Linked DNA regions of Homo sapiens. The protein of the gene in region 2 purifies or fractionates together with the protein of the main gene of each other region. This does not show direct contact. Each region holds a gene or a part of one and is shown on either strand. Other genes may lie near its edges.

What was found. The genes of interacting proteins can lie anywhere in the genome.
Region 1: the proteins of DDTL (region 2) and TBCA purify together in Homo sapiens (affinity purification with mass spectrometry, with the first as the bait; one large-scale study listed by BioGRID). This does not show direct contact.
Region 3: the proteins of DDTL (region 2) and MTPN purify together in Homo sapiens (affinity purification with mass spectrometry, with the first as the bait; one large-scale study listed by BioGRID). This does not show direct contact.
Region 4: the proteins of DDTL (region 2) and MDH1 purify together in Homo sapiens (affinity purification with mass spectrometry, with the first as the bait; one large-scale study listed by BioGRID). This does not show direct contact.

Annotation. Positions count from the first base shown.
Region 1 is NC_000005.10:77,769,355-77,774,206, reverse strand, and holds part of TBCA (tubulin-specific chaperone A), read left to right. Parts: intron 1-4,852. UniProt on the Homo sapiens protein: Tubulin-folding protein; involved in the early step of the tubulin folding pathway.
Region 2 is NC_000022.11:23,964,593-23,970,704, forward strand, and holds the start of DDTL (D-dopachrome decarboxylase-like protein), read left to right. Parts: upstream 1-2,295; 5' UTR 2,296-2,322; coding exon 2,323-2,430; intron 2,431-2,793; coding exon 2,794-2,969; intron 2,970-3,393; coding exon of another isoform or gene 3,394-3,610; exon of another isoform or gene 3,611-5,303; intron 5,304-6,112. UniProt on the Homo sapiens protein: May have lyase activity.
Region 3 is NC_000007.14:135,945,875-135,950,726, reverse strand, and holds part of MTPN (myotrophin), read left to right. Parts: intron 1-44; coding exon 45-128; intron 129-4,852. UniProt on the Homo sapiens protein: Promotes dimerization of NF-kappa-B subunits and regulates NF-kappa-B transcription factor activity. Plays a role in the regulation of the growth of actin filaments.
Region 4 is NC_000002.12:63,594,596-63,599,447, forward strand, and holds part of MDH1 (malate dehydrogenase, cytoplasmic), read left to right. Parts: intron 1-827; coding exon 828-924; intron 925-2,803; coding exon 2,804-2,979; intron 2,980-4,574; coding exon 4,575-4,697; intron 4,698-4,852. UniProt on the Homo sapiens protein: Catalyzes the reduction of aromatic alpha-keto acids in the presence of NADH. Plays essential roles in the malate-aspartate shuttle and the tricarboxylic acid cycle, important in mitochondrial NADH supply for oxidative phosphorylation.

The DNA.
Region 1 (4,852 bases), on a different chromosome or scaffold from region 2:
TGTCCTGTGATGCCATACTAGAGTAAAGCTGGAATTTGGTGTCTTATTGTTACAAAAAGCCTTAAGATCTGTTTTAATGTTAATGCTGCTCAATTGTTCCTGAGTTCCAAAGGGAGGAATGTGTAATGAGACATGTCTGACCCCCTCTTCCCATCATGGCCTGAATTACTTTAGAATGCCCTTAGTTGAGAGGAGGGGTCCATTCAGACGGTTTTGGAGCTTAGAATTTTGTTTTTAGTTTGCATTCCTGAGTGCTGGTAGACCCTTCAGTGTTCATTAGAACTTTATTGTTCAGACCCAAGAAGAGCAAACTTTTTGATGAAGTATTACAAGAGAAAAGATAAACAGCCTTCTGAAGAAGCAAGTTATTTTGTTGTAGCAATGTCTACTAAAGAAACCAACTGGCTTCTTCCTGTTCGCCCACCTTTCCTTTGTTTATTGATATTTCCACCAGAGGAAGGACCAGGCAAAAGGGAGAATAAATTCACTTTTTAAGATAATGCTTCTGAGTTTTAGCACAGCATCCCACTTCCCGGGAAGCTTTATTGCCAAGGCAATAAGGAGACCATGTGAGTAGGAGTTAAATGCACAGCCATTTGTGAAGTGAGACTGCTTGGGTTCAGATCTTGATTCTGCCCTTTATTCTATGTTGTGGAATATATTACATTGTGCTGTGCCTCTTTTACCTTATTTGTAAAATAGAGCAAGCACCCAACTCAAGCAGTTGTTGCAAGAACTGCCTGCTATGCTGTTTAATACAGTATGTGGCAAATAGCAAGTGGGTAGTAAATGTTAATAATACTGTTTGGATTCTCATTTTACATATGAGAAACTGAGGTTTAATGAAGTTAAAAAAAGAAAAAAAAAACTTGTCTAAAGTCACACTACTAGTTAGTGGCAATGCAAGGAAAAGGACCAAGGTTTCAAATCTACAACTTTCTCCTTTAAGCTACAGTGCTCCCGTAAAGAGTATTTTTAAAATTGGTAATAGGAAGGGAATTGAGATGTATATTTGAAAATATAAATAATCCATCCTGTCCCTCAGCTCAGAGTTCTTTTTACCAGACTTTTACCAGACTGGTTCACTTTTACCAGACTTGCTTGGGTTATGTCATTTTAGTCAGTATATTTGGCAGAACTATCAGGGTGTGTTGCAGAGTGCTGTAGAATGAAAGTCATGAGAAATGACTTCTAATGGTAGTTTCCCATTCATTTACTTATATGACCTTGACATTTCTCATTCCAGTGATCTCTACTAGTTTATAAAATTACTTAGTTCAAGTAGTTATATGCTGACAATACATATTCTAGAGAAAATACTCATTGAGATTATTATAAACTAAGTTTTTGACTTTTCAGAAGTTTTCAATGCTTATGTAAACTGCTTAGAAATAAATTTATCATTTTATGAAACTTGGTGATAGTTTACTATTATCTCAAATTGCTTATAAATTAATGGAAGTGTCTCCCATACATTTTAAAATGACTTTTCTGTTGACATTTTGGGGTATAGCTTCCCACTTATGTATTAAAATGCAATTAAAGAAAAACCCCTAAACTTTCTGTTTTAGCTGCTTGTTACTCACATTTTGCCTTGGTATATCACCATCTAACTCCATAAATATTGTCCCCTATTGTCTCTTGTTATTTTTCACCTGAAAATTATTTTGCTATGACTCTTTCCATCTTCTACCTTAGTATCCTATTTTTATTTTATTATTATTTATTTTTATTTTACTTTAAGTTCTGGGATACATGTGCTGAACGTGCAGTTTTGTTATATAGGTACACATGTGCCATGGTGATATGCTGCACCTGTCGACCCGTCATCTAGGTTTTAAACCCTGCAACCTATTTTTAAAAATCTATATTTTACCTCAGCAAAGTAAAAAATAGATGAGGCAGCAATGGTAACATATTACTAATTGTTGGGGCTGAATGATCATGGGGCTTCATTATATTTTTCTGTACATAAGTTGAACATTTTTCATGATAAAAAGGGTCTAAAAGATATGCTTTTTTCCTCCTCTCTCCAAATTTAGTTTCAAAGATACCTTAATTCATGATTCAGACATGTTCTTGCTTTTGTGAAAGGGATTCTATTCTTTTCTTTTTTTTTTTTTAATCAATGGTTTAAAAACCTATCCTCGACACTATTTTAAATCTGTTCTTGACACTCTTTTTCTGGTTAGACGTTCATTTTCCATAGCCTCATTTATCTTCGGAAGTCACAACCTTTATTTGGAAGAAGAGGTTTAAAGTCATTATTCATGCCCCAAATCCTTCAATTTTCTCTCTAGAAATTGAGAGCAACTAGAAATTATATTCTAGGTATTTGTCCTAGAGTTCAGTTTGGGTAGGCTATACTAGAAAGGGTGGATTAATTTAGTTTCTGATTAGACCTGGTGGAACACTTCAGGTGACTCAGAAGTTCCTGATAGTGGGTCTGAGGAAGAAATGTGGACAGGCAGGTTGAATGTTAGGGGAATATGGAAACAGGCAATAAGTAGATGATGGTATTTGGCGTGTAGGAGATCCAGCCATGCGTGCAAGACGGCCATTTCAGCATGTTGGCAAAATGGCAGAGTTGACCTAATGGATAGCAGCCCACATTATAAAGTAGAAACAAGTTTCAGGGCCAGTATTTTTAGGCCCTGGGAAAATAGGCCGGAGGTTTACGGTGAGTGTCTTGTTCCTAGAGAAACTTTGTTACCTTGTACAGTAAATGGCAAAGCATCTGATTTCTGGGAAGTGAGTTTCAAGAGAGAGAGGTTAGATTACTAGGAATAAAGAAAGAGTCTAGATACTAGGAATGGCTTAGAAGGTGAGAGTTGGACAGAATGAGGCTGAATTGGTGCTAAGCCTCTGACTCTGAGGGCTCCTTAAATATCTTCCAGCAACAAGATTTTAATAGTATTGTTGTTATTTTTAGTTGACACATACATATTTACAGGGTACCCTGTGATATTTTGTTACATGTATACTTTTTTTTTTTTCCTGAGGACTAATTCTTGCTGTGAAACTAGAGAAATGTATGTAACAGAGGCTAGATGGGTTATTATATTATTTTTATTTTTATTTTTTCAGAGTCAGAGTCTCGCTGTGTCACCCAGGCTGGAGTGGACTGGTGTGATCTCGGCTCACTGCAGCTGCTGCCTCCTGGGTTCATCCCTGCCTCAGCCTCCTGAGTAGCTGGGATTACAGGTGTCCGCCACCATGGCTGGCTAATTTTTGTATTTTTTAGTAGAGACAGGGTTTTGCCTGGCTGATCTTGAACTCCTGACCTCAGGTGATCCACCTGCCGTGGCCTCCCAAAGTGCTGGAATTATAGGCGTGAGCCACTATGCCTGGCCCTAGGTGGGTTATTATACTAAGTTTCTTTGAGCAGCAGCCTTTGTTCACATGTGACTCACTGGTAGTGGGTATTAGTTGGCAGGTTTGGGTGTAGCTGGCTCTTTGTTTTTTTTCTTTTTTTTTTAAGATTTGGATCTATGTTTCCAGCAGATTGCTAGACCTATTGATATCTGTGACAGGGTCACAACTAATCTGGCAGCTCTAGCAGAGTTACCAAATAATACTCAGTTTTTTCCCCCAGCACAGAACTGTTGAACACTCTGTTTTTTTTTTGGAGCGGGGGAGGATATCTAGGTGGCATCAATTATCACAGTTTGCCTGAGACTGAGGGGTTTCCCAGGATGTGGAACACTTCACTGCTAAAACTGGGAAAGTCCCAGGCAAACTGGAATGATTGGTCACCTCTTCTGTAACTAGCTAACATAGCTCTGTTTTATGTGTTCTGTGATTTATTTGGAGGCTATTTACAGATAGTACAACTGTGAGTTGTATGTTGTACCTTAATTTAAAACTTAAGTGCATGGTGTAAATATGAATCCTTGACAGAGTAGCTTTTGTTCTGTATTTAAATTATTAATGATTTAGAAAATAATTTTCACTAAAGTAGGAGAAAATGCAGAATTGATATTTTCTAAATGTGGTATTTCAGCTAAGTGACTTATCTGCACCAAAAAAGTTTCCAAGTGGGATTTGTGTTCATAAAAAAGTTTGTTTTTTATTAGACTTGTGATAAATTCAAGAAATTCTTCTGCAAGTAAAAAACACTCACAATCATTTAACATAAAAGGTTATTTAACTTTAAAGCCAGCTTTCAATAAAGCCTGTTAAACTAGTTCACTGGTGAGTGAATGAATTGATTAAAAATACTTTCTTAAATATATCTTTTTATAACCATTTTGGATTGGTAATGGCTTAAAATCCAATGTGAACAAAGAATGTTAGGGCATTGGAAATAGCACTGACATTGGCCCATAGTTTTCCTCTGATTAAATGAAAGTGACACCAGTAGATTAGAATGAGACTAGGACAATTCACACTGCAATTTTGTTAGTTTAACTTTAACAGTCTTTTAACACTCTTGTTTAAATGTAGCTGACATACCATAATTACAAATCTACAAGCCTTGATTATAGAATTTTACATCATGAGCCTGTGGGGAAATTGTATTGATTTTTTTTTTTTTAATAAAGCAAGCATTGTTCCCAAACTGTGGCATCTTCCGAAGTTTGTTTATATCTACATCCTATATACAACTGTGTATGGTGTATATGCTATGTATAGCAGGCATGAAGACAACATAAAAGGTATGTAAAATCTCCACTATTAGTTCAATATATATTATACTGATATAAAAAGTGAAGAATGCAAATGACACGTATACTTAAGTAGACGTAAAGTCTCCCCCCATTAGCTTTAGCTGTTTATATACTTATATTTAAAGCAATGGTGCATAGAAGTATGGTGGACTGTATCTGGGATAGGTTAAGAACATAGTCCT
Region 2 (6,112 bases):
GCCTGCATTCCTTTTGTCTCCTACCCCATTCCATTCTAGCTTCCATGTGACCTCTGAAAAGAGCTTGGGCAAACGCTTACTTGACCCTGACCTTCTGTGTGGAACTTTGTATGGTTCCTCACTGCCCAGAAGCTAAAGTACAAGTCATTGAACTTTGCATTCAAGGCCTTGCTCCCACTCCTCCAGGTGGCCCCTTCTGCCTGCACACTCCTAACCCCTCTCTGGGCTCCCACCTTGGCCTCTTGGCCTCCGCTCATGCTGTTCCCTCCTCATCTTCGCCTGGTGCCCTTCCTGGTCTTTTGGCATTTGGCACCCTGTCTCTTCTCCAGGGAGACTTCCCTGACCTCCCCAGCCCCAGTCCAGGTCAGGCGACCTCTCTGGGCTCCTCAGCCCCAGTGTTTCCTTGCGGGGGATACCCCCGGACTGAGCATGTATCATCGATGAGGGGTGACCTGGTGGAAAGATGTCTGAATCAGGATCAGCCTTGGTCTCCTCGGTCTCTCTCCTCACTGTGGGGCGATGTTGTGTTCCACAAGTGGGGTGCAGGGCTGGTTCATGAACCTCCTTGCAGGAAGGGAAGTCCCTGGTTATTTCCTGGCCCTCTCCCATGCCTCCTCATAACCTTGACCACAGTCTTCTCTACACCCCACTCCCGGACCACTGGCTTGTCCATGCCCCACACCTGGTCCCAGACTTGCCACCTGTCCCTGCCCTCTCCCCTTAGGACTGTCATATTTACCTGTCGTGTGTCTCAGACCTTCTGATATCTGAGTCATCTAATAAACAAACTGCTAATAGGACAAGATCATGACAGACAGAGACTCTGTCGGCCTTTCAGTGGAGGCTCCTTTAAGTATGCACACTTATAGAGAATTTTATACACGTAGTTGAAATTGTACATATAAACTTGCAAATTTTTTCTTTCTTTTTTGTGGGGGAGGGGGGAGCCTGGGTCTCACTCTGTCATCTAGGGTGGAGTGCAGTGGCACAGTCATAGCTCCCTGCAGCCTAGATCTCCTGCGCTCAAGCAATCCTCCTGCCTCAGCCGCCCAGGTAGCTAGGACTACAGGCACACACCACAGCACCCAGATTTCTTTCTTTTTTTTTTTTTTTTGTAGAAAATAAAGAAGAGAATCTTGCTATGTTGCCTAGCCTGATCTTTAACTCCTGGGCTCAAGCAATCCTCCCTTCTTAGCCTCCCAAAGTGCTGAGATTACAGGTGTGAGCCACATTGCTCGACCACAACTTCAATCATATTTGTAATGTACAATTCAAGTGATTTTGCCACACTGACCACACTCATGTTTAAGCCACGCCAACAGAGTTCCATGTTTTCTGATGTTTTTTCGAGATGGAGTCTCGCTCTGTCACCCAGGCTGGAGTGCAATGGCGCGATCTCGGCTCACTGCAACCTCCACCTCCCCGGTTCAAGCGATTCTCCTGCCTCAGCCTCCCGAGCAGCTGGGATTACAACGTCTGCCACCACGCCCGGCTAATTTTTGTATCTTTAGTAGAGACGGGGTTTCGTCATGTTGGCCAGGCTGGTCTCAAACTCCTGACCTCAGGTGATCCGCCCGTCTGGACCTCGCAAAGTGCTGGGATTACAGGCGTGAGCTACCGTGCCCGGCCTTTCCATGTTTTAAAGAACATATTTTGCCACCCCCTGGTGGACAGTGGCTCACCACCGGCACAAGAGGCTACACAGGCAGATGTCAATGGGGACCAGGCAGGGACAGGTATTGTCGTGAGCCTAGCCCTACCCGCGCCCCCGCGAGTAACCACATCTCCTGACTGCCCAAGCGCAGATTTCCATACTGAACATGAAATTGCCTGACTTCGAAATGGTGGCAAATCATTCAAAAAAACTTTAAGCTCCCGTTGTATTGGTTATTAGGGTCGAGCCTGGGGAAGACCCCTATAGGTGTGTGTGTGTCCTTGTGTGTCGGGGGTGTGGTGTTCAGACCTCTAATAGGGCTAGGAACCGGGCGACCACAGCGCGGAAGCTTGAGAGGGAAACCCACCTGGCGCCAGGCAGGAGGGTCGGGGGAGACAGGGTGGGTCCACTACCGGGTTAAAGACCTGTAGTGGGTGGGGCTACACGTAGGGCGGAGACGATGGGACTTCCGGAAATCAGCCGGCACACGTGACTTTTGTTTGCAGAAGCGGGAGGTACCCTAGGCAGCCAATCGGGGAGCGCCGAGTCTCTGTCCAGCCAATGAGAAGCCAGGTTGCTGTGGCGCCTCGCCCCTCCTCCCTGGTCCGCGAGCCTTGGGTACCCCCAGCTTTTCTTCCGCCAGAGCTGTTTCCGTTCCTCTGCCCGCCATGCCGTTCCTGGAGCTGGACACGAATTTGCCCGCCAACCGAGTGCCCGCGGGGCTGGAGAAACGACTCTGCGCCGCCGCTGCCTCCATCCTGGGCAAACCTGCGGACGTAAGCGTGGGCCGGGCAGCACGGGGCGAGGGGAGGTTGGTGGGCCAGGGGTCCGGCCCTGTCCCTGCTCCGCCTCCCCGACAGTGACCCCGAATCTTTTCCCCAGGGACCACTCCCCACTCCTTTCCTCACGCCAAGCTCTGACTTTCCGTGCTCCACGATCCCGCGGCTCCCCCTCCGCACGTCTTTCCCTTGTCGCCCTCCCCAGTCATGACCCGGGCGTGACCTTCAGGGACCGCGGCCCGTATCGGGATCCCTGCCCCGCGAACACTGCGCGTTTCGGCTTTCGCGCGCTCGGGTCCCGTCCCCAGAGGTAGCCCGGCCGGCTCCAACTTCGGGCAAAACTTTTCATGTCCCCCTCAGCGCGTGAACGTGACGGTACGGCCGGGCCTGGCCATGGCGCTGAGCGGGTCCACCGAGCCCTGCGCGCAGCTGTCCATCTCCTCCATCGGCGTAGTGGGCACCGCCGAGGACAACCGCAGCCACAGCGCCCACTTCTTTGAGTTTCTCACCAAGGAGCTAGCCCTGGGCCAGGACCGGTGCGTAGGGGTAGTAGGGGATCCATGTGGGACTGCCGCAGACTGGAGCCACTGATCCTGCCTCAGGGGGAAAAACCCATTTCTTGCCCTGCCCAGTAAGGACACATCAGGGTCTGGAGCTTTGGGGCCCCCTGACCCCTTAGGTTCCTGCTGTTAGGACCATCTTCAAAGTGCGAGCAGGATTGAATGAATTTCTGGCTCTGCTCCTCAGTGTGTAAGTCTGTGAACCGGGAAGGCTCTCTTTTAACACCCCCGGGGCAGTGCAAGGGTCATGTGGGATTGTCTGTGTGCTGTACCTGCCTTGGCACCTGACAGGGTAGGTACACGTGGCTGAAGTGTGATTTTCTAGAACTTTTCCAGGCTGGTCAGAAGGAATTCTGGGTATGTTCTGAAGTTACGTATTTTGGACCTGTGTCCCAGCCAGGTTCCAGGTGAAGTTCACGGGAGACTCACAGAGTAGTGAAAGACCATTGGCCTGGATGTCTAGACATCTGCTTTCTGGGTCCTGCATAGCTGGGGGACCCCAGACAAACTTGGAAATGAACCATCTCCAGTTGGCAACCTCCTCTTCTGTGAATACAGGGGAAAAGACCTCCCTCCCCCACAAGAAGCGTCTGCAACCCAAACCTGGCGTTCTGTGACCGAGTTAAAGTTTCCTCTTGGGTAAAAGATATTCTTGAGCCACATCCATGTCTAGGAGGAAGTAAGGGCATGAGAAGCTTGAAAGGACACTGTCCAGGCACGGTGGCTCATGCCTGTAATCCCAGCACTTTGGGAGACCAAGGCGGGAGGTTCATTTGACCCAGGAGTTGTAGACCAGTCTGGGTAACATAGTGAGATGCCATCCCCCAAAACAGTTTTAAAAATTAACCGGACATGGTGGTGTGCACATGTAGTCTCACTTAGTTGGCAGGCTGAAGTGGGAGGATGGTTTCAGCCCAGGAGGTTGAGGCTGCAGTGAGCTATGATTGCGCATTGCACTCCATCCTGTGTGACAGTGAGACCTTGGCTCACAAAAAAAGACCTTCTGAAATGGAGCCTTTGTTAGTCCATGAAGGTCGATGAGGAATGGCTGATCCTGCTGGGTCCTCCCTCAAGCTACAGAGGAATAATACAGTCAGCCCCCTGTATCACTGGGTTACGCATCTGTTGATTCAAACAACCATGGATTGAAATATTAGAGGAAAAAAATTGATAATTGCATCTATACTGAAAATACGTATAGACTTTATTCCTTGTCATTATTCCCTAAACAATACAACTATTTACATAGTACGTACATTATATTAGGTATTATAAGTAACCCAGAGATTATTTAAAGTATATGAGAGGATGTGTGTAGGTTACATGCAAATATTACACCATTTTATGTAAGGGACTTGAGCAAATGTAGATTCTGGTTTCCTCTGGGGATTCTAGAACAAATCTCCCACGGATACTCAGGGAAAACTGTTACTCTAACAACAAGTGTTATACACTTACCATGTGCTAGGTCCTCTACAGGTACTTTACACTCATGATCCCATTTGATCCTTACAATCCCTATCCACTCTCCCTTTGCTCAGACAAGACATGCTATCCCCATGAGGTAGATAATCTCCATTATGCCAATTTTATGATGAGAAGACTAAGGCTCTTCATACTCCCCCGCCCTCAGCCAGGCTGTCCCAAGCTGTGGCGCTCCTCACTGAAAACTGCTGTCACCTCTGAGAGGGGCATGTTGGCTTATGGCACAGACATTAGTGGTGGGGGGGCCACCCTGTGCCCAACCTTTGAGAAAACAGGTGTCTGAGGTACTGTGTCCTTAGGGAGTCTGCAATTAGGAGGAGGCAGATTGCCCCTCAGCCCACAGACTGACAGAGATGATGGAGTGTGCAGCACACACGATGAGGCTACTGTGTTGAGTGTCTGTCCTAGGTGGGTCATGCTGATGTGCAGCCACCATTCCACACCTGAGTGTCCCACTGCCCTGCTGGGGGTTGGGGAATGCTCATTACCGGGATGAGCACTTTTGCAAAATGGGCTGAGGTGGGAGGATCACTTAAGCCCAGGAATTCAAGACCACCCTGGGAAACAAAGTGCGACCCCATCTCTACAAAGTCATACAATTAGCCCAGCATGGTGGCATGAGCCTGTGATCCAAACTACATGGGAGGCTGAGGCAGAAGGTTTGTTTAGGCCCAGGAGGTCGAGGCTGCAATAATCTGAGTTTCCACCACTGCACTCACTCCATGCTGGCTGCCTTTGGATTGTTCCTAATTGGATGGTTTTGCTTTCAACAGACACTCCAATAAAGTACACGAAATAAAGAATAAAGTTAAACAGTCAGTCCCAGTGCTGTGTAGGTGGCAGTAAGTCTGGGAGAGCGACCTCGGCTGAACTAACTGTGGTGTGCATCATTGTTAAGCAGGGCCAGCAGGATCCTCATGTCACCTGGCAGGAGGAGGGACAGGGAAGGGTCCCTAGAAGTGACCTTGAGTTGCACTTAGTGCTCTTGGCAGAGGGAAGGGCTTGGGCTAGTGCTGGAGGCATGAAGATGGGGTGTGTTCAGGGCTCTCCAGCAGTCCAGGCATGGGAAGGGGACGCTGAGGGCCAAAGGCGGAGGTGACACTGGGAAGGGAACTAGCAAGGTGAGGACTGGCTTTTGGCCATGTGACTGAATTGCCTGTGTGGTGCGTGTGTATGTGTGCGAATGTCAGTGAACTGTGTGTGAGTGAATTGTGTGTTTATGTGTGGGTGTATATGTGTGTGATGTGAGTGAACTGTGTACATGGGTGTATACGTGAATTTTAGTGAATTGTGTGTAAATGTGAGCAGTGTGAATTTGAGTATGTGGGTGGATAAGTGAATTGTGATTTTGTTGGTGTGAATTGTGTGCCTGTGTGTGACGGGGAGTATGTGTGTGTGTGAGTGAACTGTGTGATGACTATGAATGTCAGTGAATGCTGTGATTGTGTGTGTGTGTGTACGTGTGTGGGGATTTGGTCTATATGTGTGAATTTGAGTTGTGTGACTTTGTTGGATGTGAGTGAATTATGTGACTGGGTGTATATGTGTGTGTACATGAGTTAACTGTGTGTAAATGGTATGATTGTATATGTGTGTGAATGTGATGAATCGTGACTAGATGCGGGTGGATGTGT
Region 3 (4,852 bases), on a different chromosome or scaffold from region 2:
GAAATGAAAAACAGATAAAGTTATCTCTGTTTATTATTTCATAGGCTCCAGATAAACATCATATTACTCCTCTTCTGTCTGCTGTCTATGAGGGTCATGTTTCCTGTGTGAAATTGCTTCTGTCAAAGGTGAGGTCAATTGCTAATAGTATTGCTTTTTCTATTACTGTGTTTAAGCCAAGTATTTGATTGTTAATTTATTTGAATTTTGTGTGGCAGCAGGGACAGAAAACTGGAAGCAATATACAAAATTGAAGTGTAGTGTTACTCAAAATAGCTGGCCCATAAACTGTTACCAGTTTGTGGTAGGTAAGGAGCTTGGGTGAATATAAATCAGCAGTCTTCTTTGTCAAGAAAATATTTTACACACACACACACAGAAACCAGCTTGAAATAACCATTGTACTTGATGATATAGAAGAATGTCATTTTGGACAGTAACACTTTGTGGACTGGCACCAGGTTCATACACCATGCTTTGAGTAGCACTGGTTTGAAATGTATATGTTTCATTTTCTGGAATACATACCGAGCAAAATGGTTAGAGGTAGTTTGCTGTTAAGTAAGGACTCTCCAAGTTATCTGGTTTCTTGATATGCTTGAGATAGTGGTAAATTTGGAGTTTTCCTACCTTTTTTGTCTTTGCTATTATAAGCCCTTAGATGGAGTTCAAAATCCAGACTCAGAAATTAACCATTTAGTTGCCGCCATTCTAGCTGTATTAGATGGATCCTACAGATGTTGGAAAGCAAGAAATCTTCAGAAAATATTACCAGTTACAGTATTATCACTAGTATTTAATCCCAGCCTTGTCATTTTATGACCATACTCTGGAAAGTGTTGTTTATAATATTTCATTTGGGATCTTAAGCCCTACTAAAAGAAGCAAGAGAAAAACAGAAATGAGTAGATGTATATAAAGCATTTTGCCACAGTGCCTGATACATAGTAAGCACTCAATAAGTAGTAGCTTTTATTATAACTAAGGCTGAAGAGGATTTTAATGCTTTGTAGTGTCAGCTTCAGTAAGATACGAAGAAAATTGGGAAAGAAGATAGCACATTTATCTCTTAACACTTTATTGACAACTTTGTAAAGATATGGTTCTAAAAGCAGTTAATTTGGGTCCTCTAAATAGAGCTAGGGTTTTTTCTATCCATAGCTTCATGTTAACCACAATTACTGGATTTCTTTAAATATGTTTGTTGTTGTTTGGGTTTGGGTTATATATCAAGAGCAATTTTTATACCTTACTGATAAGAATGATGCATTTGTCCAAAAGCCAAAATAAATGGAAATATTACTCTTTGCCGCTAGTGGATCCAGCATCTGTGATAGGGTGTGCTCGCAAAGATTTCCAGTCACTGTCTTTCTCTTTACTGTTCATCCCTCCCCAAGATCTGCGAAAGGATTACAAAGTACCTTTGAATACTGCTAGATAATTTCATCCCTGGGAAATATTTTTGCTTACTGTATCAAAAACAGATTTGCTGTTTATGAAAGATTTATATAATTTCAATATTGTATTAGTTAGGACTCTGTCTTGCAAGTAACTGAACCCAGCTCAGACAGGCTTAAACAGTAAAGAGATCTTATTAATTTATATAACTGTACAGTTGAGGCACAGCTTGACCCTGGATTTAAGACACATGACCATGATCTGATTTTTTTATTTTTATTTTTGGCCTGTCCCAGGTCTCTTCCTCAGCATTGGCTTTATTTCCATGGCTTCAGCCTATCTGCTAGCTCTCAAAAGAAATGGAGGACTCCCTCCTTACCCTTCGTTCCCGCCTTTTCCCTGACCTTTTTTTTACCCAGCCAAGGGTTTTGTTCTCTGAAAATAAAAACCTCCATGGGATCATTTTTTGCTTAGGTCCCTTGTCATTTACTAAATGAGCTGCCCTAAATGTACTCTTTCCTTCTAACCATATCTCAAACTGTAGATCAGAACAATTTTTCTTTGTGTTAGACCTCTCTGTCCTCCTAGGAAAAACAAAACAGGATATATTTTTTATTCTATAGAGAACCCAAACCATTGTTCTGTACTCCTTATTCCCAAAACATGAGGCTTCAGGTCATTGAGACCTTGTGGTTGTAAGTTTCCGTTGTTAAAGAGTTGAAAACATTAAATGAGTTCCTGAAAAGTTGGCTTGATTTGCATGTACATTAGGCCCTAAGATGTCATCCCAGAAGGTTCTCTGTGTGTGTACTGTGTTGCTAAATTATTGATTGTGAGTTGTCTTACTTTTAACTAGTTTGTTTTTTCTTTTGCTTATGCCCATTTTGTTCTTTTGTGTCTGAACCTTGACTTTTTTTAGCCAAATAAGTGACATTTGGAGATAGCTATGTTGGTAGCAGACCGTTTGTAACCATGTAGAGCTGTTGTTTTATATGAAAGAGATTTTCTTCTTTTTGAAATCAGCATAGTACATTTTAGTTCTGCTTTTTCAAAATTAATTACTTTGATTTTATTATTGCATAAGCTTCTTTAATGGATACCCTGTAGTTTTGTTAGGCAGATTTTTTTTGAAAATTGATTATACTCTTTCAAAAATTCTTAGTTGCTAAAATAGAGTTGTTCCAGTGCATCTTTTAAAAGTTATAATCAGTGTTTATATTAAGTCTAATTTGTTCTGCCTTTTATCAAAAGTAGAATTCTTATGGATTATTATGAATTCACTTGAAAAGACTTGGTTTAAGAACTTTCCAGATTCATTGACATTTCCAATACATTATCCAGTTGATTTATCCTTAGCATACGAAAAAAGGCAAAATAATAAACAGGGATTTAGAAACTCAGTATGATCACAACTAATAGGGGAGAAATCAGAAAAACAAACATGATTGCTAGAATATTTGAAATCAAACTTTATATGATATGCTGTATCATTTATAATTTATTATAAACCCAAATACTTAGGTATTATTATCTCTCTTTTATGGATAAGGAAACCATTTATCTCGGGGTGGTCTAACTGCTTGAAAGTCAAATACAATGTAATGGAATCAAGATTTGTTCCAAGATGTAGGATTCAGCAGCCTGTGTTCTTACTATTACTTGAAATTGCCTTTCAGAAGTACTGTCAGGTCAGTTAATGAGAAATGGAACATGTACATATCTGCAGGTAAAAAGACTTGTGGCCTCATTTTTAATTGGCAAGCTGGTAAATGAGAAAAATGTAGAGATCAACAGATGAGAGGCTTCCATTTCAAAGTTTAGGTGTGAGCACATTCTGTGGTGTTCTCTTTTTGCCCCCAGTGACAGAAAAGATGTTTTTAAAGTGAGTTGATCAGTATCTGCTTTGGACCAGAAGAATTGGATCCATCAAACAAGAAATGATAAGGAAACCTTGAAAGACAGAAAACAAGCAGGGTAGGGCCAAAGAAGAAATTCCCAAATAAGAGCAAGAGAGTATTGTTGCAAAAGGCAAGAGCTGATCCAAGGCCACGCCCAGAGGTGCCTAGTACCCCCAAGCAACAAATGGAGTGACAAGTTGGATGCACTTCAGGAAGAAGCAAATTAAACCCAAAAGGAAAGACTGAGATGCAAGAAGGGGAATGATAAGTAAGAAGTTAGTGTGAATTAGTATGTGAATAACTCTAAACAAATATTTAACACTGAAGTTTTTAAAAAATAAGCTAGAACCAAATAAGGTAAATAATATGAGATGATCAAAGCTTCTGGTATTTTCACCAAATCCAGAGTACCTGAGAAACATGGTAAAACTAGCAAGAAGAAACAAGGGAAAGGAGGCAGATAATTAATGCAGGCTCAAGAAGCATCCTTGAAGAGGTAGCAGCAGCAGAGGAGTGAGAGTGTGAAGAAGCTGATGTGAGTGTATGAGACAGACACTCATAATAGAAAAGTAGCAACTGACCAGTACAGCAGTCTGTGGAGAGGCCAAGCCCAATGCCTGTTTTTATCAAAGCAATAATAGGCAGCCTGTATAATCATGTGTCATTTAGAATTATAATTATCTCAGTGAAATAAGGTTCCCCTTTATTTGCCCTAAAAAATCTTAACCAGGAAATTTTTGGAATGAAAAGGATATTTAAAAGGTGGTATTAAAAAGTCCTTCAGTTCAAAAGTTGGCAAACTTTTTCCTAGGCATACCCTTTTTGCGAAGGCATGCCTTTGCAAACTACATGGTCACTGATGTAACATTGCCATAGACAATACATAAACGGATGGGCATGGCTGCATCCCAGTAAAACTTCATATACAAAAACAAATATCCAGGCCATGTTTGCCAACCCCTGCTCTAGCTCATAAATAGTTTGGAATTTATAAGGCACATCGTTTTAAAACCCTAACCCTCAGTGGTAAGATGATGCTTCCCTAAGTGCTACAAGGTGAGTGTGTATCCTTCTGGATGCTTTTATTAGACTATGCTAGCACTTATTTTTGAAAAGATTTTTTAATGTAGCCAAACAAGAGTTTATAGGACACTTATCTGGGATATTCACTGTTCATTACTAAACTGGTCTTTCTGATTAAAATCTTAAACACTTGAATAATAGCAAGGTTGCACAAACACATTAGAAGGGGGCTAAACATGAAATCATATTCTTGAATAGTATTAGCTGATGGACTTTCCTAAGTTCAGAGTTCATTTACAGTAGTCCCCCTTTTCTGCAGTTACCCATGGTCATGGTGAGTACATTACTAAGATACTTTGTGAGAGAGACACCACATTACCATAACTTTTATTACAGTTAACTTTTATTAGCATGTTATAGTTGTTCTATTTTATTATTATTATTTCTTCCTGTGCCTAATTTATAAATTAAACTTTATCATAGGTATGTGTGTATAGGAAAAAACATAGTGCAGTCATGTGCCATATAATGAC
Region 4 (4,852 bases), on a different chromosome or scaffold from region 2:
GGTGTCTATAAATCTTAAGTTATTAGAGTAAGAATATGGTTAATAAAAATCTGTATTTAGTTGTACACAAATTGTTAAACAGTGAAGGAATATGTAATCCCAGTAAATGTAATAGGCACATTGCTATAAATGGAAGCTACTAAGGTATTTATATGTACGCCTCCAGGCACTGAAAACACTTTGCAAATGAGAACTCTTCCATATATTGTACTCAGTTGACTTGGTGCAACCAGCAGGTGTCAGTCAATGGGAGATATCACTAATGACAGTAACTTACAGTCATGTGGGAGAGAGTTACTCAGTAAGCACTCCCTTGTTCATAAATGGCCTTTGGAACCAAAAGAGTAAGGAAATCTGCTTCCCCGCTGAAGCAGGCACTCCGACTTCCAGCAAGCCTGATTAATATACACTAAAATCCTTTTCTAAGGTATTCATTTATTCAGTTTCTTGACCCATGGATACTGAATTATTCTTTCATGTCAGATACTGTACTTAGCTTTCCATGAACTGAAATCAAATATACAGCTATTAACAATAAGAGCAAGCTATAGCATGTCACTCAGTTTAATGTTTTTTTCATATACTGTTAAAATTGAGTAGTGGTGATTCCTCTCACTGTGTCTGTTAGCAAACCAATGCTGGTTTTATAGCATCCTTCTTTCTGAAAGTGGCATAGTGCTAGATACCTGACCTCCTAAAATAATCATCATGACTAATTAATGGGAATTACATGCATGTACATACCAAATAAAAACTATGTGAAAAGACTTTCTTGTGTCTAAATGAAATAGCCTACACTAACAGATGCTGTCCTTGCTATTTGGTAGCCTATAATTCTTGTGCTGTTGGATATCACCCCCATGATGGGTGTCCTGGACGGTGTCCTAATGGAACTGCAAGACTGTGCCCTTCCCCTCCTGAAAGGTGGGTTGGGGAGTAGAGAAGGGATTTTATGGTATTTGATTTCTTACAAAATACAGGTTTTAGGTTTTTGTTAAAGGCTCTCAATTAGAAATTATTTCATAAGAGGATTTTTTTATTTTGAACTACCACTGTTTATTAACTACTTATGTATACCAAGGATAAATAAGGGTAAGAAATGAGCAACAATCAATGTCAGGTAAAGGACTATCCTTTTTTCCCCAATGTGTGTGTGTATATAATTTATTATACCAGTTAAGTGTAATATTGCACAAGGGTTATACACCTGAAATTGTCTACACACACACACATTATAGACAACGTAGGAATTGTCTACATTGTGTTGTTATGGAGTCTGCTTAACTGGTAATAGTAGCATCCTGTAATGGAAAACTTTCTCAGTTTTGAAGGATGTCCTTCATAGCTATACATTGCTCTGGAAGTTGGTTGGTTCCTCTTACACGGTCCCCATCCCATCTACCAATCATCAGGTTGAGACATAGTGTAAATTGTCCTTACCATATGCTCTATAGTTTGAAAAAACCCAGAAGAGCTCAGCTAAGGGCCTTTGCAAATCATTGAACTATAACACAGATATAATAAGGAAGCCTTAAATTTGATCGAAAAGTTTATTAAAATATTCTAAATTAATTTAAATATTTTTCTTCAGCTATTTCTTCATCATAGTCTTTCTTTTGGTAAGGATTAATTAATGATACTCTCCTAGAAGTTTGCACAAAGCAAAATAATACATACCTTCCAAGAAAAACTTTCCTTAAAATTCTTCATCTGTTGAATAAACATTTGCTAGAAGGGATACTCTGCCATCTAAGTCTTTTGGTTGCAAAGTTCTGTGGAAGAATACATGACTGCCCACACTATTCTGTTGGTTCCCTTTTCTCACCCACAGCTCTTTCCAAATCAGCTTTGCTGCTTTTTCCCATTTGTATTCCTTTCTCTGCTGAGTTCCCTGTGCTTTTTCTCTAAAGGGCCCAGATTGCTGTTGGTTTGTCCTCTGCCAGATATGAATATGACAGGGAAGGGAAAGTTCAGCAAATAAGGACATGTGACTGGGAAAGAGGAAGATAATTTTTTTTTCTCCAACTGGTGTTCCTGTCTATGCCCATTTTCAGACTTATGGCAGCCTTGACTATGATGCAACTAGCCAATTTTCCAGTGAAAATGCTGAATGTTGGTCATAGCTTTTTTAATACAATCAACAAAGAAGTGCGATGACTTATGTTCTTTAGTCAAAAAGCAAGTGATGTTTGCTTATTGTACTAGCACTGGAGCATAGTGGTTGAACTCTGGACCAACCTAGGCTGGAATTACAGCTCCATTATCTTTTGATGGTGGCGAGTTAATCTCTTTAAACCTCAGTGTCTCCATCTATAAAATCAGAAGATTAAATTTGATAGTAATATAAATCTCTTAGCATTATCCTGGCACAAAACTCCTCAATAAACATTTATTATTTTTAAATTTGTGATTGGTGTCTTAGACCTTAAAGTAATTGTAATTTAAAGGTTAGGTGAATTAGTTGCTCTTTTGTGTTGTGTGGTAATTAGTGTGAATAACAAGTGTCACTTCAAAAGTCATCATTATACCTTGCATCATATATGATTATAAAAGATAAAAGCTATGGAGTTTTGACATTTAAGTAATTATTGAAACAGGAAAAGCAAAATAAATCTATTGACATTTCTAATGTTATGATTGTTAAATTAATATATTATCTTTCTCAGGCTCCTGAAATGTATATCAGTGTGATATGTAAACACTTGCAACAAGTGAAAGAATTAATGGGTAGATTCAATATGAAAAAGAAAACTTCAAACTTTGATGTTTAAGTAGCTCTGCGTATTTATTGCCATGTCCACAGATGTCATCGCAACAGATAAAGAAGACGTTGCCTTCAAAGACCTGGATGTGGCCATTCTTGTGGGCTCCATGCCAAGAAGGGAAGGCATGGAGAGAAAAGATTTACTGAAAGCAAATGTGAAAATCTTCAAATCCCAGGGTGCAGCCTTAGATAAATACGCCAAGAAGTCAGTTAAGGTGACCAATGCTGTATTTTATGGGATTTTTCATTATTAGCATTTGAAACTTATGCTTTTAGCATTTAAGCAAAACCAAAATTATTTGCCCTTTTTTCTAGTTCTGTACAATCATCAGTAAATACGGCTCTAGAGTTTTGCTTGATAAGCTCTCCCTTTCTGGGTTTTTTCTTACAGTATAGAAATCTATATTCAGAGTGCTCAAAAATATTTTTCCTATTAGTATAACGTGAAAATTTAGTATTAGTTCTTAAACATATAGAGAAGGCACAGGATCTTCTGGTGCATTTTTGCTGCGTGGGAATATTTATTTAGACATTTAAATTTGTGTGTGATTGTGAAAGGAGATAGCTAGCTGTAAGGTAAGTTTATTCTCAGGAATAGAAGATAGTGGTTTCTGAATGCTCAGATTTTCTTAATGCAGAGGAATTTTAATATGCTTGTCTCTTGAAGAATTGAGTCAGTATGACTTATAGTTCTCTCTTTGTGTTCAAACTATTTACTTTAGATTCTAATATGTCTTAATATTACAGTAAGCCTTTTTTATTTTTTATTAATTTTTTTAATTTTTTTGAGACGGAGTCTTGCTCTGTCACCCAGGCTGGAGTGCAGTGGTGCAATCTTGGCTCACTGCAACCTCTGCCTCCCGGGTTCAAGCGATTCTCCTGTCTCAGCCTCGTGAGTAGATGGGACTACCGTTGCACGCCACCACACCCAGCTAATTTTTGTATTTTTAGTAGAGACGGGATTTCACCATGTTGGCCAGGCTGGTCTCGAACTCCTGACCTCAGGTGATCCACCTGTCTTGGCCTCCCAAAGTGCTGGGATTACAGGTGTGAGCCACCACGCCCAGCCAAACCTTCTTTTATTAGTGAACTATCAATTAACTAGAACTTAATTGTCACCCAGCAAATAGGCTTGCCGGTTAAAGGTTTAACTGATTTCCATATACTTTCCTATCTTTCAAAAAAAGGTGAAAGAAAATTTTTTAAGATTTTTTAAGTTGCCCATTATAATGTTCTATCAATAACATTTCATAGATATCTGCATTTTTTGCTTTCTGTGCACTTCATTTTAAATAGTTAACTTATTTTCTGTCATCACAGAAAATAGTATAAATGAGTTTAATAGAAATCCACAGGTGCCAGTAAAAGATTAGAAGATTGTTCAGACTGCTAAATTGCAGGCTATTTGGAGGTAAAGTACTCCTTGCACAGTAATTCCACTTCTTCAAAGCGTCCTTGTTCGTGAGAAATATTTGCCAGCACTGCACTACTTAGAGACAATGAAGTATCTTGTCTACAGCTTGTCAAAAGAGGTACCAAAAAAAAAAAAAAAAAAGATATATGGGAGTCAGTCTCTGTAATATGGTTGTAACTTTTCTATAAATCTGATATTATTTCAAAATTTTTTATTACCATTTTATAAAAGATTTTTATAACTTAAAATGCATTTTCCTATGCTATATTGTATTTGGTGTTTCCCAAGCCTCCCCTGTACAAAGGCTACCTGTTAGACATTTTCAGTCAAATTTTAACATAGATTAGTTAGTAACTATATAGTCTGTAACTCTTCAGTGCCTTCCATTCCTCCTAGGTTATTGTTGTGGGTAATCCAGCCAATACCAACTGCCTGACTGCTTCCAAGTCAGCTCCATCCATCCCCAAGGAGAACTTCAGTTGCTTGACTCGTTTGGATCACAACCGAGCTAAAGCTCAAGTAAGAAAAATATATTTTAAATCTTGTGGTTGTTCAACTTTAAAACATTTTTCTCTCACTTTTAAAATAACTGAATCTGAGTTTGTGCTTTTTTCTTGTTTTTGTTTAGTAGGAACCTATTACTTTTATTAAATTAAAAGTAAATTATTATTCAT